2 linked regions of the Homo sapiens genome follow. The protein of the gene in region 2 purifies or fractionates together with the protein of the main gene of each other region. This does not show direct contact. Each region holds a gene or a part of one and is shown on either strand. Other genes may lie near its edges.

Region 1 (5,280 bases), on a different chromosome or scaffold from region 2:
CAAAACAAAACAAACAAACAAACAAAAAACCCATATATATATATATATACCTAGCTGAGGTGAGAATGCACTATTTTGGTAAAATCACCAACATGACCCAGCTACAGCATGGGGCAGTCCCTCCCCTCTCACTGGTAAATTTTTCTTTCTCTGACTCACAGTTTTGTTGTTGTTGTTGCTGTTGTTTGAGATGGAGTCTCACTCTGTCACCCAGGCTGGAGTGCAATGGCGCAATCTTGGTTCACTGCAACCTCTGCCTCCTGGGTTCAAGCGATCCTCCTGCCTCAGCCTCCCGTATAGCTGGGACTACAGGCGCATACCACCATGCCTGGCTAATTTTTGTATTTTTTTTTGGGTTACAATGTACTATTTATTAATTTAATTTTTGTATTTTTAGTAGAGATAGGGTTTCACCATGTTGGCCAGGCTGGTCTCGAACTCCTGACCTCAGGTGATCCGCCTGCCTCGGCCTCCCAAAGTGCTAGGATTACAGGCATGAGCAACCACGCCTGGCCCCTCATAGGTTTTTATCTATTCTCTTTGCTTCTTCACAACTTTGGCTTGCACGTGGACCATCATGTTCTCTCCACTTTCTCACTACTTCATGATCTTTCAGTCTCAGTTCCAACTGATACCTCCCTCAGTTGCTCTTTTTTCCTAGTAAGATTTCCAGAGAGGGAATCTGAATGGCCCAGTCCATATTTTCAGACCACACCACATTAAAGTGGTTGATTGCCAGCCTATGTATTGGCTACATTAATGGGTTGGGAACTCATCATTTACTTCATTGCACAAAGCAGCATAGCTCTGGTTCTCAAAATAGGGCCCCTGGGCCAGGTGTGGTGGCTCATGCCTATAATCCCAACACTGTGGGAGGCCGAGGGGGGCAGATCACTTGAGTCCAGGAGTTCTAGACCAGCCTGGGCAACATGGTGAAATCTCATCTCTACTAAAAATACAAAAAATTAGCCAGGTGTGGTGGCATGCACCAGTAGTCCCAGCTGTTCAGGAGGCTGAGGTGGGAGGATTGCTCGAGTGTGGGAGGCAGAGATTGCAGTGAACCGTGACTGTGCCTCTGCAATCCAGCCTGGGTGACAGATTGAGACCCTGTCTCAAAAAACAAATAAATAAAATAAAATAAATATGGTTCCTGAGCAGGGTAATTTCAGTGGGAAACCTCCCAGGGGAGGTGGATATGTCAGTCACCGCTGTATACTCAGTACACGGCTAATAAGAGAACTTGTGGTAGCAGCAAGAACACTAGGTATTTACTCAACAAATATTTGTTGAGCATCTGATAAGAAGTGGGCATTGTCCTAGGCACTGAGATACAGTAGTCAACATGGCAGACAAGATGCCTGCCCTGACAGGCTCTGCTAAAGTGAGAGAGGACAATAAGAAAGAGAAAGGAAGAAAGAGAATAATTTTAGGTAATATTAAGGGTTGTAAAGAAAATAAGACAGGATAGTGGGATAGAGGTGAGGAGAATGAGGGCTGTCTTCTGAAGAAATGATTTTTGAGCTGAGACTTCAGTGATGAGAAGGAATTAACCACACGATGTGCTGGAGGAAAAGCATTTTAGGGAGGGTGAGCAGCACATACTTCAAGGAATCAAGAAGGAAGCCTGGTGAGGCTGGAACACAGAGAAAGAGCAGGTGGGTGACTTGAAAGGGCAGGGACGGCAGTGGCCAGGTTACCTAGACCTGGTAAGGGTTTTCAACCATAAAAGGGAGTCATCAGAAAGTCTTGAGCAGGGCTGTGATATATTCTAACTCATTTTTTATAAAAGATCACTCTGACTTTTTGCAGAACATAAGTTATAAAAGTACAAGCATGTAAGCAAGGAATCCAGCTAGCAATCCGTGCAGTTGTCCAAATTAGAGGTGATGACCGCTTGGACTAGGATGATAGCAGCAGAGGTGGTGAGGAATCACCATGATATATTTTGGAGGTAGAGCTGACAGCATTAACTAATAGCTAAGATAGGCCGGGTGTGGTGGCTTACGCCTGTAATCCTAGCACTTTGGGAGGCCAAGGCGAGTGGATCACCTGAGGTCAGGAGTTCGAGACCAGCTTGACCAACATGGTGAAACCTCGTCTCTACTAAAAATACAAAATTAGCTGGGAATGGTGGCACATGCCTGTAATCTCAGCCTACTTGGGAGGCTGAGGCAGGAGAATCGCTTGAACCTGGGAGGTGAATGTTGCAGTGAGCCGAGATTGCACCATTGCACTCCAGCCTGGGGAACAAGAGTGAAACTCCGTCTCTAAATAAATGAATGAATGAATGATATCAGTCAGAGTAGGGAAGGGAAAAGAGGCTTCAAGAATGACTCAGCTTTCGTGGACTCAGCAACTGAGTGGCTGGTGGTTTTGTTTTCTAAAATTGGGAAAGACTAGGGAGTGTGTGTGTTGGTGGGGGGCAGAAATCAGTTTGGGCATATTAGGTTTTGGGTGCCTATTGGCACCCCATAAGCATGTCAGGTAGGCAGCTGATTTGGAGCCTAAACCTCAAAGGAGAGGTCAGTCAGAGCTGACGAGAACAGATTGGAAGTCATCAGCATATAGATGGCATTTAAAGCCCCTGGACTAGGTGAGATTACCAAGGAAGTGAAGGTAGAGAGAGAAGAGAAGAGGCCCAAAGTAGGGGATTCCAATATTTAGATATCAGGTTGAAGAAAAGAGTAGTCAAAAAAGATAAGAGGAATACTGGGAGAGTCAGGTGTCACAGAAGCCAAGTTCCAAAAAAAGACATTTAAAGGAGAAGGAAGTAGTGAGCAGTCCAGTGCTCCTGAGAGGTAGGGTCAGATGAGAACAGAGAATTGACCATGAGATTTCGCAAATTGGAGAATACTAGCAACCTGGATAAGAACAATTTCAATGGTTGAGGGAAACAGAAGTGTAATTGAAGAGGATTGAGGAAAAAAGACAAATGGGAGCCTAGATAATTCCTTAATAAGTTGTTGTGAAAAGAGGAGAAGAAAAACGGGGTGCTAGCCCAGCTACTCCCTCACTCTTCCACCACCTCATAGGGAGAGACTGGAGAACACAGCCAGAGTGAGAACATTCAGTAGAAGTGGTGCTTCCTTTTTAAGTTCTGGACACTGTATTTCATTATCTATAACCGCATCTCTGTACATGGACACCTGAAATCCTTAGGGAGTGCCCGCCAACCCCATGATGTTGGCCTTACCTGGAAACTTAGCCACTGTTTTCCACACTTGCCTTTCTTTCAGGCACCTGCTGATTCCAGTTTCAGCCAGGGCACAGTGCCCAACATTGCTGACCAAGTCTTGCTCTATTTCTCCTTCTCACCTGGCCTCTTCCATCTTGGCCTCTGGATGCATTCTCTCCCTCTCATGACTCATTTCTGCATTCATCACTAGCCTCTTCTCTGCCTGGGCTTCTGCCAGCGGCCCTAGAGCAACCTATGGTATTCCACAGGGACCCACTACTGGCGTCTGGACACCAGCCGGGATGGCTGGCATAGCTGGCCCATTGCTCATCAGTGGCCCCAGGGTCCTTCAGCAGTGGATGCTGCCTTTTCCTGGGAAGAAAAACTCTATCTGGTCCAGGTGTGTATTGGGGGAGAGGCTTGAGGTAGAGACTGGGACAAGCATATCCAACTCTGTATTTATTACCATCCTTTGTCCTCCAGGGCACCCAGGTATATGTCTTCCTGACAAAGGGAGGCTATACCCTAGTAAGCGGTTATCCGAAGCGGCTGGAGAAGGAAGTCGGGACCCCTCATGGGATTATCCTGGACTCTGTGGATGCGGCCTTTATCTGCCCTGGGTCTTCTCGGCTCCATATCATGGCAGGTGAGGGGCTTCTGGGTGCTTAGAGGGCAGCTTGTTCTGCTACCTGTCTGTGGCATAGATCCCCACCAGGGCATGAGAAGGCCTAGGTCAGGATCCCCAGGGCATGAGAAGGCCTAGGTCAGGATCCCCATGACATGGAAGCCATGCTATGTTTGGTGCCTTCTCCCCAGGACGGCGGCTGTGGTGGCTGGACCTGAAGTCAGGAGCCCAAGCCACGTGGACAGAGCTTCCTTGGCCCCATGAGAAGGTAGACGGAGCCTTGTGTATGGAAAAGTCCCTTGGCCCTAACTCATGTTCCGCCAATGGTCCCGGCTTGTACCTCATCCATGGTCCCAATTTGTACTGCTACAGTGATGTGGAGAAACTGAATGCAGCCAAGGCCCTTCCGCAACCCCAGAATGTGACCAGTCTCCTGGGCTGCACTCACTGAGGGGCCTTCTGACATGAGTCTGGCCTGGCCCCACCTCCTAGTTCCTCATAATAAAGACAGATTGCTTCTTCGCTTCTCACTGAGGGGCCTTCTGACATGAGTCTGGCCTGGCCCCACCTCCCCAGTTTCTCATAATAAAGACAGATTGCTTCTTCACTTGAATCAAGGGACCTTGGTCGTGAAACAATCTTCTTTCTTTGAGTTGAAAAGTTAGCACTTCTCCTTTGAGGGTGTCGAGCTCAAACAAGGCTGTGAGAAACAAGGGAGGGGAGCACTAAGGGGCAAACCTATCTCTGCGCAGATGATTCTTAGGTCCAGATCATAAACTAGCTCTTTGCAGACTATCTACACATAGTGGGGGGAAAGAGAACCAGAGTCGGAAGAGGAACAGCTGAGTTTATACAGCAAGTAAGAGGTGGAGCTAGGACTCTGATTCAACTTGCTGGTAGATGGCCACAACCCAGCCGCAAGGCATCAGAAACAACAGGGCCTGGGGCAACTATGCATGTGCAAAGAGGATTGGCTCAGAGTTGTGGGGTAGGAGGTCCAATCTGGGGGACCTCAAATTATGGTTCTGGGTGATTCAAGTAACACCACTCATGGCTTGTGTTGCCATGAGTTAGGCATGACAAGTGGAATGAAGTTGAAGTGGGGAAACAGAAATACACCAGCTGTGTGTCAGAGGCAAGCTGGAGAGAGAGAAGAAAGAATGAATGGCACCATGGAGCACATTTGCAGAACACAGTCCCTGGGAGTCTTGCTGGAGCCTCAGGAGCTTTGCTGGCACAGAGGATCTGGCCTACCCAATTAGCCTCCTGGGTATCTGCACCATCTAGACCAGCAAATGTCACTGGCAAGGAGGTTGCAGTGCTTGGTTATTTTCTGGTCATAAACTGGTGAAGGCTTTGGGTTCCAAATTTGCTGACAGCTGTTTAACTGGGAATTGGGCCTAGACTATAGGTAGCTATGTCTCAGACAAGGCCCTGTTCCTCCACTGCCTTTACAACCCAGCTGAGGTTGGAGGCTGGC
Region 2 (5,280 bases):
TGACATCCCATAAAATCTTTGTATGTATCTAGACAGAATAATAAATGTGATTTTCAGCTGGGCATGGCGGCTCATGCCTGTAATCCCAGCACTTTGGGAGGCCAAGGCGGGAGGATTGCTTGAGTCCAGGAGTTCAAGATCAGACTGATCAACACAGTGAGTGAGAGACCCTGTCTCTACAAAAAAGAAAAAATTAGCTGGGTGTGGTGGTGTGTGCCTGTAGTTCCAGCTATTCAGGAGACCGAAGCAGGAGGATCGCTTGAACCCAGAAGTTTGAGGCTGCAGTGAGACATAATCATACCACTGCACTCCAGCCTGGGCAACAGAGTGAGACCTTCCTCTCAAAAAAAAAAAAAAAAAAAAAATTTTTTTTTTCATCTTAGGAAAAAAGTATAAAGCGACTAAGGTGATTGATATAATAAACATTAAGAAATCTCTAGGACAGTAAAAACAAAAGAGAAACAATAGATTACTGAAGAATGAAATTGGCTATCAAAAACAGTACTTTTGAATGAGGAAGAAATAAACACTTGGCAAATGACCAATTACTCATAAATTTGCATTCAAATGACCAAACCTAGAAGTAATAATATCTTAGTAGCAATGAACACACTTAGTGCTCAGATCGTGGTTTCTAAATATCATTCACCAATGAAAGGAATCTGGGTGCCTAAGAAAACTGGTTGATTCCAATGCTGCAGCAGGGAAAATAAAAGACGAGTCTGACCACCTTGTGGGACCAGAAGCAGCATTAAAAAAACAAAACAAAACAGGGTTGGTGCATGTTAAATGGATATACGAGCCAATCTAACAGAGCTCTCAATGGCCCAAACTGAAACAACTGGAGCAAGAAAATAAGTAACAATAGTATTATATTATAATCCAAAGAATTAAATAAACAGCCATGAGTCCATATTGATAGAAAATTAATAGTAACTAGATAAGGGAAATTCTTCCTTACAGAGGAATTCAAATTAATAAATGTAGAGGGAATGATAGAAATAGAAAATAACCATTAGAACATCACAGAAATATATAATTGATGCAAGCAAGATCTACTGATGAATACCAAAATTAGGCAAAAGTCCAAGGAGAAACAGGGTATTTGCAGGGCTTCAAATATTAATTAAAAGGGAAAATAGTAACTTTTTTTAAAGATAAAGAATAAACATGAACACTGTGATCTGTTTCAAACCTAGTTTTTCACCTCCACTCTGTTTTTATCCCTCTAACTCAACAACTGTTTCCTGAATACCCTCTCCATTTTCCAATATGTTTTTACTATTAATAATATAAAAATAAGGTTTTTGTTGTTGTTGTTTATCTGAGACGGAGTTTCGCTCTTGTTGGCCACGCTGGAGTTCAGTGGCGTGATCTTGGCTTAGCACAACTTCTGCCTCCCAGGTGCAAGCAATTCTCCTGCCTCAGCCTCCTGAGTAGCTGGGATTACAGGCATGCACTACCAGGTTTGGCTAACTTTGTATTTCTTAGTAGAAACGGGGTTTCTCCATGTTGGTCAGGCTGGTCTCGAACTCCCGACTTCAGGTGATCTGCCCGCCTTGGCCTCCCAAAGTGCTGGGATTACAGGCATGAGCCACTGCGCCCGACCAAATTAGGGTTTTTAAACAGTGATGCTATTGACATTTTGAACTAGATAGTTCTTTGTTGTGTGGAGCTGTCCTGTGCATTGTAGGCTGTTTTGCGGCATCCATAGTCTCCACCCACTAGATGTTGATAGCACCCCAGTCCGCAGTTGTGACAATCAAAACAATGTCTCCAAACATTGCCACGTTCCCTGGGCAGGGTGGCAGGGAGGGCGCAAAAAACGGCGCTCAGTTGAGAACCACCTATCTAAATCCTTATCATTCTTCAGAGTTCAGCTTAAATGTCACCTCTTCCATAAAGTCTTCTGTTAACCTAAATGGAATTATTATTTCCTATACTAACATGCTGTATTTTTAAAAGCAGTGTATGTTTTTAATATATCAGTTATTATATTTGGCCTTCAACTATATGTATTTGTATCTCTTACTAGGGTTTCTTAAGGATAAACTACACTTCACACACTTTTATAGGTCCCTATAATACCACTTATTGCCATGCATGGAGTACTCAATAAAAGTTACTAAGATTAAATAAAATTAGTGAGAAAGCTACTTAACTTTTATTTCTTTAACTTTCCTCTCAATATATTATATTTTAAAGAGTAGTAATAGTTTAGTATTAGTTTGCTAAATTCCATATTTTGATTGAAAACTGAACTTCATGGGCAATTTACCAAAACACCACTATTCAGTGGCTTAAGATTAACCAAGAGAAACCAGCTTCAGTGTTAGATCTGCATATACAAACACAATAGTTAAAGGCAGGTACCATGTTAGAAGACACCAATGAAGAACTCTAGCCACGAAACAGCTTTTAACAGAACAATGACATGCGTGTCAAATAAAGTCACTTTACCTTTCCTCTTGAAAGTATGCTGGGTATCTTTTGTGTTAAAGAAATAAGTCTGTAAGAGGTCTCAGCAGTTCAAGTGTAGACATGATTGTTCTTCTAAGCTTTGCCTAATTTGAGACTTGCTCAAAGACTGTATATGAGTCACGTGAATCTATATTTTACGTGAATTATGGGTAAAGCTGGAAAAAGTGGTCATCTACAGGTATGAGAGTAAAAGAGATAGCCCTCACGGAAAGACACGAATCCTATAATTGGGTATTTGATTCCAAAAAACTGACTTAATATATCATTCAGTAGGAAATTATTCCCATGAAATTGATAATTCTAGATATACTGGCATAACAGAATTTCTTACCTATTATCATATGATTCTTGTTCTTTAAGATATTGCTGCATCAATTCTTCTTGTTTCTTCTTATCATATGATATTTTCTGTTCTGCCATCCATACCTAGATTAGTGAAGTAAAAATGCAAATTAAATTGTTGGATTTAAATTAAACAAACTTTGCTTTTCTTGTATAATAAAATATAAAATGCAATTGTTTAAAGCAGGAGTGCCCAATCTTTTGGCTTCCCTGGGCCACAGAAAACACACTAATACACAGTGGAAGAAGAAGAATTGTCTTGGGCCACACAAAATATACTAACGATAGCCAACGAGCTAAAAAAAAGAAAAGGGCAAAAAAATCTCATAATGTTTTAAGAAAGTTTACAAATTTGTGTTGGGCCACATTCAAAGCCGTCCTGGGCCACATGTGACCCACAGGCCAAGAGCTGGATAAACTTGGCTGAAAGTTTACAACATAATCCAATTTGGCCGCAATTACATCATTACAAATTAACACCTGAAAAATCTGAAGTGTCTTGATACGAGTTCTTTTTATTTTTGAGACGAAGTCTGGCTATCACCCAGACTGGAGTGCAATGGCATGATCTTGGCTCACTGCAACCTCTTCCTCCCAGGTTGAAGTGATTTTCCTGCCTCAGCCTCCGGAGTAGCTGGGATTACAGGACCCTGCCACCACACCAAACTAATTTTTTTGTATTTTTAGTAGAGAAGGGGTTTCGCTATGTTGGCCAGGCTGGTCTTGAACTCCTGACCTCAGGCAATCCGCCTGCCTCAGCCTCCCCAAGTGCTGGGATTACAGGCGTAAGCCACTGTGCCCAGTCCACAGAATGCTTTATAGCAAGTTTGGGTTTTTTCAAAGCTGTATTTATAGTTTAAATTATATTAACTATATTCATAGGTAGTCAATGTTATACATTTCTTATATATCCTTCCAAGATGTTCTAATATATATATATATGCAAAAGAACATATACCACATTCTTCTTATATAAATGGTAACATATTTTACGCAAACACACACACGCACACAAAATATATATAAAATAAAATTATATATCATGGAGATCTGATATGGTTTGGCTGTGTCCCCACACAAATCTCATCTTGAATCATAGTTCCCATAATCCCCATGTGTCATGGGAGGGACCCGGTGGGATGTAATTGAATCATGGGGGCGGTTACACTTCATGCTGTTCTCATGACAGTGGGTGAGTTCTCACAAGATCTGATGGTTTTATAAGGGGTTTTTCCTCTTTTGCTCAGCACTTCTCCTCACTGCTACCATGTGAGGAAGGACATGTTTGCTTCCCCTTCTGCCATGATTGTAAGTTTCCTGTCAATTAAACCTCTTGCCTTTATAAATTACTCAGTCTTGGTCATTTCTTCATAGCAGCGTGAGAATAGACTAATATAGTAAATTGGTATAGGTAGAATGGAGGGCTGCTAAAAGGATACCCGAAAATGTGGAAGTGACTTTAGAACTGGGTAACAGGTGGAGGTTGGAACAGGAAAATGTGGGAAACTCTGGAACTTCCTAGAGAATTGGAGTGCTCAGAAAACAGGAAGATGTGGGAAAGTATGGAACTTCCTAGAGACTTGTTGAATGGCTTTAACCAAAATGCTGATAGTAATATGGACAATGAAGTCCAGGATGAGGTGGTCTCAGATGGAGATGGGAAACCTTTTGGGAAGTGGAGTAAAAGTCTCTCTTGCTAGGCAAAGAAACTGGTGGCATTTTGCCTCTGCCCCAGAGATCTGTGGAACTTTGAACTTGAGAGAGATGACTTAAGGTATCCGGTAGAAGAAATTTCTAAGCAGTAAAGCATTCAAGAGGAAGCACAGCATAAAATTCTGGAAATTCTGCAGCCTGACAATGGAATAGAGAAGAAAACCCTATTTTCTGGGGAGAAATTCAAGCCGGCTGCAGAAATTTGCATAAATAATGAGAAGTCGAATGTTAATCACCAAGACAAGGGAAAATGTCTCCAGGGTATGTCAGAGACCTTCACAGCAGCCCCTCCCATCATAGGCCTGGAGGCCTAGGAGAAGGAAAAAAGTGGTTTCCTGGGCCGGGTCCAGCCTCTCAACTGCTGGGTACAACCTTTGGTCTTCGTGCCCTGCATTCCAGCCACTCCAGCTATGGCCACTGCTTCAGAGAATGCAAGCCCCAAACCTTGGCAGCTTCCATGTGATGTTGGGCCTACACGTGCGCAGAAGGCAAGAACTGAGGTTTGGGAACCTCTGCCTAGATTTCAGAAGATGTATGGAAACACCTGGATGTTCAGGCAGATGTTTGCTGCAGGGGTGGAACCCTCTTGGAGAACCTCTACTAGGGCAGTGCGGAAGGGAAATGTGGGGTCGGAGCCCCCACACAGAGTCCCTACTGGGGTACTGCCTAGTGGAGCTGCGAGAAGAGGGCCTCTGTCCTCCAGACCCCAGTATAGTAGATCCACCAACTTGTACCATGTGCCTG

Evidence for each region. Proteins that work in one complex are often made in the same cells at the same time.
Region 1: the proteins of CIRSR (region 2) and HPX purify together in Homo sapiens (affinity purification with mass spectrometry; one large-scale study listed by BioGRID and IntAct). This does not show direct contact.

What each region holds. Positions count from the first base shown.
Region 1 is NC_000011.10:6,430,182-6,435,461, reverse strand, and holds the end of HPX (hemopexin precursor), read left to right. Parts: intron 1-3,444; coding exon 3,445-3,575; intron 3,576-3,658; coding exon 3,659-3,821; intron 3,822-3,991; coding exon 3,992-4,251; 3' UTR 4,252-4,413; downstream 4,414-5,280. UniProt on the Homo sapiens protein: Binds heme and transports it to the liver for breakdown and iron recovery, after which the free hemopexin returns to the circulation.
Region 2 is NC_000002.12:174,384,873-174,390,152, forward strand, and holds part of CIRSR (corepressor interacting with RBPJ 1), read right to left. Parts: intron 2,908-5,280; coding exon 2,813-2,907; intron 1-2,812. UniProt on the Homo sapiens protein: May modulate splice site selection during alternative splicing of pre-mRNAs. Regulates transcription and acts as corepressor for RBPJ. Recruits RBPJ to the Sin3-histone deacetylase complex (HDAC). Required for RBPJ-mediated repression of transcription.